Linked DNA regions of Homo sapiens: region 2 is linked to region 1. The links come from fine-mapping of genetic effects on gene expression. Tissue or cell type: testis. Region 1 holds a variant in brackets; the other region holds the start of a gene. All regions are shown on one strand. Distances are between the middles of the regions.

The links. PIP is the estimated chance that this variant, and not a neighbour inherited with it, causes the effect.
Region 2: LINC02534 starts here. The variant in region 1 is the best candidate, but not a certain one, in a credible set for the expression of LINC02534 in testis (GTEx, PIP 0.61).

The regions. Positions count from the first base shown.
Region 1 is chr6:115,568,020-115,572,429 of GRCh38, forward strand. No RefSeq gene overlaps it. Among named protein-coding and RNA genes, the nearest start is that of LINC02534, 74 kb to the right of the region's middle. The variant T/G (reference allele first, on the strand shown) is at 2,008.
Region 2 is chr6:115,641,402-115,645,811 of GRCh38, forward strand. It overlaps LINC02534 (long intergenic non-protein coding RNA 2534), which reads right to left and starts at 2,434. Exons shown (of 4, transcript NR_134602.1): 1 at 2,404-2,434.

The DNA.
Region 1 (4,410 bases):
TAAAAAGTCAAAAAAACAACAACAGATGCTAGTGGGGTTACAGAGAAAGGAGGACACTTATAGGCTGCTGGTGGGAAGGTAAATTAGTTCAGCCTCTGTGGAAAGCAGTGTAGTGATTTCTCAAAGAATTCAAAACAGAACTAACATTCACTCCAACAATCCCACTACTAGGCACGAGCCCAGAGAAAAATAAATCATTCTACCAGAAAGACATATGCACACATATGTTTATCATAGCACTATTCACAATAGCAAAAACATGCAGTCAATTAAGATGCCTGTTGATAGTGGACTGGATAAAGAAAATGTGGTTCATATAAACTGTGGAATACTATGAGGCCATAAAAAATGAAATCATGTCCTTTGAAGCAACATGGACATAGCTGGAGGCCATCATCCTAAATGAATTAATGCAGAAACAGAAAACCAAATATCATATGTTCTCACTTATTAATGGGACTAAACATTAAATACACAGGGACACAAAGATGGGAAGAGTAGACACTGGGGACTGCTCCGGGGGGAGGGTGGGAGAGGGGTGTGGGTTGAAAGGCTGCTACCTATCAGGTACTATGCTCACTGCCTGGGTGACAGGATCATTCGTACATCAAGCCTCAGTGACATGTAATTTACCCATGTAGTAAACCTACACATGCACCCCTTGAACCTAAAATTAAAATGAAGGAAAAAAATACAGTCATTTTAATTGTAAAAGTGTCTTTTTAATCATAAAATTTTAGTTGCAAGGTTATTAATATAACTGATCCAAACCCATATTTTGTAAATGAGAAAACTAAAGTCTGTGGTTAGATTATTTCAAAAGATAACCTTAACTATACCGTCCATCCTTACCTACGCTTTTGCAATTTGCCACACTTATCAAGAAACAGAGTGCATTTTTCTTTCCCTTGGATACTGGCTTCCCTGTAAATTGTTTTGACCAAGAGAATGTGGTTGAAGTATTGCTGTGTGCCATCTAGATCTAAGCTTTCAGAGACTTTGAAGCATTCATTTATGTTGTGTTGGGACTCAGCTGCCATGCTGTAAGACAACTAGTCTAGCCTGAATGGGGAAAACAAGATCTCTCAATAACCAGTATGTGAATGTAGTTATTTTGGACAGTCCTGTGTCAGCTGTTCAACTGAGCCCAGATAAGACCAGCAGAAGAACCACCATGCTAAGCACAAGCTATCCACAATATTGAGGGAAATATTCAATGATTGTTTAAGTTACAAGTCTTGGGGATGGTTCATTATGCATTCTTTGATAGCTGATATAAACTCAGACCACACTGCTATATTTGATTATTGTTGTAGTCATTATTAAACTTATTCTACATGACCCTTTCCATTAGATTGCACTATCTTAAGAAATCTGTAACCGATTTTACCTTCAGGGGGCCTCCCTATTCTAGAGAGCACATTATTAAAATACAAACTAACAACTTTATAAATTTGACATACCTAAAGCAAATATACCAGGCATACGGAGCACAAAATTTCTAATGTTACATGTTTATTACTATTATTATTATTATACTTTAAGTTTTAGGGTACATGTGCACAATGTGCAGGTTTGTTACATATGTATACATGTGCCATGTTGGTTTTCTGCACCCATTAACTCATCATTTACATTAGGTATTTCTCCTAATGCTATCCCTCCCCCATTCCCCCACCCCACGACAGGCCCCAGTGTGTGATGTTCCCCGCCCTATGTCCAAGTGTTCTCATTGTTCAATTCCCACCTACGAGTGAGAACATGTGGTGTTTGATTTTCTGTCCTTGTGATAGTTTGCTCACAATGGTTTCCAGCTTCATCCATGTCCCTACAAAGGACATGAACTCATCCTTTTTCATGGCTGCACAGTATTCCATGGTGTATATGTGCCACATTTTCTTAATCCAGTCTATCATTGATGGACATTTGGGTTAGTTTCAAGTCTTTGCTATTGTGAATAGTGCCGCAACAAACATACGTGTGCATGTGTCTTTATAGTAGCATGAT[T/G]TATAATCCTTTGGGTATATACCCAGCAATCCCATTACTGGGTCAAATGGTATTTCTAGTTCTTGTTTTTGTACAATGTTACATGTTTTTGTACAACCTACAAGTTTTATGTATTCGTATGGCCTTTGGTCCATGTCTCTTTAATAACCTAAGTTGGAAGTTTGAATTGATACCCTCTTTTATTATTGATACATTTTCCTTTAGTGAACAACACATTCTTTTCAAAGATAGTCTTCACTGTATCATAGTATTTGAAGGCATTATAAAAGACTGAGTGAAGTTTTTGAAAGAAAAAGTCTAGGGTTTCTGGTACCCTTTTTAATGTTTTATTGGGTGCTCTTTTTAGCCTCTGCTTTTTTCACTTTCCTTCTGCTCTCCCCTCCTCACTTCTTCCTGTATACACTTCAAAGAGAAAATAAAGGAGAAAATAAGTCACAAACGAACAGCTGGAAGGATGTGGTCAGCATTCACATACAAGAGACAGTCAAATTCCTCAGCCTCAGAAGGAATGTGTTTATTATAGAGAACATTCAGGCCTTTATTTTATCCAAACTCCATCTAACAGAGTCTTCTCCCTCCTTGCTATTGCCTCTGAAACCCTCTGCCCAAAAAGATTCCTCTGTGGCAAGTGAGTGAGTAAAGTTTTCCAGAAATAATGTATTGATTTAAACGATGCTGCTAAACAGTAGAGGATCAGACCTTGCTTAATTCATCACAATATTATGATAGCTTTCTTCATTTAAAAAAGTCAGTGCACACCTAAACATGAAAATAAGTCATTTTATTTGTGACATAATGCATCGTTGCTCATGTCACAGGGAGAATTGAAGTGCAGGATGAGTAGGACAATGGGGAAGTGATGAATGCTTAATTGGGTCCATTAAACATAACATAATGTTTTATAAAATTTAAATTTTTGTAATGGCAGGATACAACACAATGTCACACACACAGAAAAAAAGGCAGAACTCCTTGTTATTTGGAACTCCAAAGGAGAGAAGTCTGCTACATTAGGCCATAGAATTTTGCATCCAGGGACAGGATTAACAGCAAGCAGGGATGACAGTGGCAACTTATGTATGGCAAGTCGGCTGGGGTGAGGTTTCTTGGGGATGCCTATAGATTGGCTAATTTTAATTCTCCAGCTCCAAAGCACAGAGTCTGCCCCCAGTTGTCTGGTACCTGGACCCTAGGCAATTAGGGTTTTGCATAGTGGACTCTGAGTGTGAGAGTTCATAAAGGAAGTGGCTGGAATATGAACTTAAAATCAGCCATTGTAGAAGGGGAACTGACCAGCCTCCAGTGAGGCTTTCAAAACTGGGTAAAACCAACATTTTAAGAAAAGAACATATTAAACAATCATTACCTTTTTTTTAACTATGACCTGATGGATATAATTTAAATTCTATAGAACAAATGCTCTGTTTTTCCTGTATTTTTATTTCCTCATCCTTCTGGATTGCAATGGATGTGAAGGAATCTTCCTTAATTTGGGAACACTGGAGAAAAGACTTCCAATCCTCCTGACCCATGAGGTGCCTCCTGCAGCTTAGCCTCTGCATGTTGGTCTCTGTCTTTGCTGGATTCACAGCTGTGACAACTCCTGGTCCATTCTTGGTACTGCCAAAGCCAATTGTCTCAAGGCTCTGAACTTCAACTGCACACTTCCCCTCGCCAAATTTTGTTAAGTCCTGGGTATTAAGGCATCTACCTTGTAGTTGGGCAATAGTTCTCAAACTGGGCTTTAGATTTTCATCACCAGAGGCATTTCGAAAAATGATTCCCTGACCCCACCCAAGATAATAAAATTAGAATCTCTTTGTGGGGTGGGGCCTAAGACTTTAATATACACACAGGAATGACATTATTGCACCTAAGTGGCTCTGATAGAAACAAGGTACATACTTCTCAGCTACTATATGTGCCCTTCCCTGGGGTCCATAGGTAAATGCTCAGGTTTTCTACCTTGCCAGCATCGATACAGACCAAAAGAGAGGCGAGGTGGAAGGAGAAGGCATGTACACCATCTCATTATGTAAGCTATCAAGCTACACCATCTCATTATGTAAACTTTCAAGCTACGAGTTCTACTCACCCGGCGGGAATGAGGGAAGTTGATCAAGAGGGAATTCTTGGAGCTTTCATGCTCAGGGAATGCACATTACCCATGGCTCACCTCAACTGTGTACCTGGGAACTGAATTCTACCATCTTCAATTTCATTCTCCTCCCATGCAAACCAGATTAAAGCTCGTAATAGACATCCCATGGGCTTAACAACTAAGACATAACACTCTACAAGGCTTCATAAAAAGCCTGAGTGTCCCCATGTACCAAGAGACTGTTGGAATTGATTCCCCTAAAACTTCGTATCTAAATTTCAGTGCTATGTTAAATAGCAATG
Region 2 (4,410 bases), 73 kb after region 1:
GATGATTTCAATACACGCATCTCAATGAAAGCCTTTATAAAATTCAATATGTATTAATGTTAAAATAAGCAAACAGAAGAAAATTTCCTCAACCTGACATAAGATATCTACTAAAAGCCTTCATATAATGCCATTCTTAATGACAGACTTAGTATTTTTCTCTGTGATCAGGAACAGGCAAAATGTCCTTTCTTATCACTTCTATTTAACATGTTATTGGAGGTTTTATTCAGTGTAATAAATAAAAACAAAAAAATTAAAGACATACAGTTTTGAAAGAAAGACATATTATCTACATACAGAATCTTAACAATCTACAAAGAAGCTAGTATAACTAGTAAATAAATTTAACAATTTTACTGAAAACAAACTCCATAAACAAATATCCATTGTATTTTTACATGCTAACAATGAACAATGGGAAACTGAAATAAACAGACTATTGAAACAAATAGAGTATTATTTATAACATCAGAAACATTACTGAGATATAAGTGTAATAAAGTACAACTCAAGATTTATATACTAAAAACTACACTTATAAAGGAAATAAAAGAGGACCTAAATAAATTAAAATATATTTTAGGTTGATGGATCAGAAGACTCAATACATTAAGATGTCAATTCCACCCTAATAGATCTGTAGAGTCAATACAGTTACAACAAAAATGTCAGCAAAATTTTTTTGTGGAAATTTGCCATCAAATTCTAATATGGTAGGGTGGGAGGAGTGGGAAAGCAAAGGAACACAATAGCTCAAACAATTTTGAAAAGATAGAACAAAGTTGAAGGACTTATACTGTTCGCAGCAGTCAGCTTGGACTGCCATAATAAAATACTACATATTGGGTGGCATAAGCAACAGGAATTTATTTTCTCCTGGAGGACAGAAGTTCAAGAACAAGGGGCTAGCATGTTTGATGCTTCCTGATGCCTCTCTTCAAGGGGCTAGCATGTTTGCTGTTTCCTGATGCCTCTCTTCTTGGCTTGTAAATAGTCATTTTTAGCGAGCTGTGGCCCCACATTGCTTTTTCTCTGTGTGTGAGCACCTCTGGTGTCTCTTTTTCTTAAGGACACCAGTCTTATAGAATTAGGGCCCTACTTTTATGACTCATTCAACCTTAATTATCTCTTTAAATACCCTTTCTCCTAATAAAGTCACAAGGACTGCTAGAAGAAAATATAGAAGAAAATCTCTGTCACCTTGGGTTAGGCAAAAAGAAATTTAAATATGACACAAAAAGCATAATCTTGAAAAGTAAAAATTGGAAAACTGGACTTCCTCAAAATTAAAATCTCTACTTTTCAAATAAAACTTAAAATAAAAAGACAAGCCACAGATTGGAATAAAATACTTGAAGAACACATATCTGATATGATATAAAAGGTCTTAATGACAAGAAAACAAGCAATCTGATTTTTAAATGAGAAAAAATTGATATTTTAATTGAGGATGATATTTAAATGGCAATTAAGCACATCAAAAAGTGCTCAACATCTGTTGTCATTAATGATATACAAACTAAAACCAAAATAAGATAGCATTACATACCCGTTATTGTGGCTAAGACTACAAAAACTTGACAATAACATGTGCTGACAAGACTAAACAACTGGAACTCTCATATATTGCCAGTTGGGATGCAATATGCTACAATCACTTTGGAAAAGTTTTGACAGTTTCTTTTTTAATTAAATGTACACTTACCATGCAAACCAGTATTTCCACTCAATATTTGTACTAAAGAAAACAAACATATGTTCACAGAAAAACCTGCATACAAATGTTTATTGCAGCTTTATACTTATTATCAAAACCTGGAAGAATGCATACTGGTACATGTAACAACATAGAGGTATGTCAAAAGCATTATGCTAAATGAAAGAAGCCAGACTCAAAAATTACATACTGTGTGATTCTCGAATATGGTATTTTGGATGAGAGAATTTATAAAGAATGAAAAATTGGTGTTTTCCAGGGGCTGCATGTGTTGGGTGTGTGACCAGGGAGGAAGGAGTACAATGGAGCATGCAGAAACTTTTTGAGGTGGTGGAACTATTTTTTATTTTGACTGTTGTGATTACATGTCCACCAAAAACTTAGAGAAAGGCCTGCCTTTGTCAAAACTCATAGAACTATACACCGAAAGGATACATTTTATATATTTAATTTTTTTTCAATAAACTTGACTGGGAAGAATTCCAGAATGAATTTCTTCACCCAGGTCATAACCATAGCTAACATTTAAGTTTACTTTCTTTTATTTCTATATGTGTGTATGCTACTGTGATACACACATACACATGTGCATACATATGTGTGTATATATATGTATCTGCATATATATGTGTGTGTTTCTGTGTGTGGGGGTGTGTGTGCATAAAATATACACACATACATACAGGTTTTGGTCTACAGTTCCTGGCTCATAATTCCCAAAGCCCTTGTTATAGTAAACAGAGTCAATCTCTCTCTCCCTCTGAACTTCTCCTGCTCTCCTTTCAACTGGCCATGGCAGGATTCTAATCTGATTGTGAGTCATAAAACAATCATTTCAGAAAGGGTCCTGCCCCCTACCGTGGAGTAAAGAATGCCGCACAGAGGACAAGAAGAATCTGAACAGACAGGCCTTACTGAGTTTATATCACATCATTTCTGTCCAATCACATTTCAATATGGTTGTCCATGCTTCAATCCTGTCTCTCCAATAAAATCCCTATTAAAAGATCCAAGAGAACAAGGTTTGAAGAGCTTCCAGATAGCTGAACATGTCGAGGTTCCTGGGGGGTGTTGCACCCAGAGAGGACATGAAAGCTCCATGTTCCTTTGTATACGCCTTGCCCTATGCATCTTTTCATCTGTCTTCTTTGTAATATCGCTTATAATAAAATGGTAAATTTGTTTTCATGAGTTCTGTGAGCCACTCCAGCAAATTAATCAAACCCAAAGAGTGGATTGTGGGAACCCCAACTTGAAGCCAGTTGATCAGAAGTTCAGGATGGCCTGGACATGCAAAAGGTGTCTGGAGGAGTGGGCATGGGGGAACTTGGGAAACTGAGTCCCCAAGCTCTGGGACCTGACTCTATCTCCAGGTAATGTTGGAGTTGAATTGGAGAATACTCAGTTGGTGTTCACTACAGAATTAATTGCTCACTTGGTGATGGGGAAAAACCCCTGCCTACATTTGGTCTCAGAAGTCTTCCGTGTTGATAACTGTTGTCTTGAGAGAATAGGCAAAAGCCCTTAGTGTGTTTTACACATAAACAATTATAATGTATGCATATTTTTATCCTGCATTTAATACCTACTGAGAGCATTTCTTATCTTTAACTCATCTTCCAAAATGTAATGTTAAAAAAATTTAGTATTATCAAATCTCATCTTATGGAAAAATAACTAGTGTGCAAAAATGTATTTGTTAATTATTATTAAAAGTTGTAATGTTGGCAGCTGGCAAGATGGCCGAATAGGAATAGCTCCAGTCTGCAGCTCCCAGTGAGATCAACGCAGAAGGTGGGTGATTTCTGCATTTCCAACTGAGGCACCTAGTTCATATCAATGTGACTGGTTAGACAGTGGGTGCAGCCCACGGAGTGCGAGCAGAAGCAGGGTGGGGTGTCGCCTCACCTGGGAAGTGCAAGGGGTCAGGGAACTCCCTCCCCTAGCCAAGGGAAGCCATGAGGGACTGTGCCATGAGGAACCGTGCACTCTGGCCCAGATACTACACTTTTTCCACTGTCTTCACAACCTGCAGACCAGGAGATTCCCTCCGGTGCCTATGCCACCAGGGCCCTGGGTTTCAAGCACAAAACTGGATGGTCATTTGGGCAAACACTGACCTAGCTGCAGGAGTTTCTTTTCATACCCCAGTGGCTCCTGGAACACCAGAGAGACAGAATCCTTTACTCCCCTGGAGAAGGGGCTGAAGTTAGGAAGCCAAGTGGTCTAGCTCAGTGGATTCCAGCCCCACGGAGCCTAGCAAGCTAAGCTCCACTGGCTTGAAATTCTCACTACCGGCACAACAGTCTGAAGTCGACCTGGGATGCTCCAGCTTGGTGGGGGGAGGGGTGTCCACCATTACTGAGGCTTGAGTAGGTGGTTTTCCCCTCACAGCATAAACAAAGCCGCCAAGAAGTTCAAACTGGGCAGAGCCCACCACAGCTTGACAAAACCACTGTAGCCAGACTGCTTCTCTAGATTCCTCCCCTCTGAGCAGAGCATCTCTGAAAGAAAGGCAGCAGCCTCAGTCAGGGGCTTATCGATAAAACTTACATCTCCCTGGGACAGAGCACCTGGGGGAAGGGGCGGCTATGGGTGCAGCTTCAGCAGATTTAAACATTCCTGCCTCCCAGCTCTGTAGGGAGCAGTGGATCTCCAAGCGCAGCACTCAAGCTCTGCTAAGGGACAGA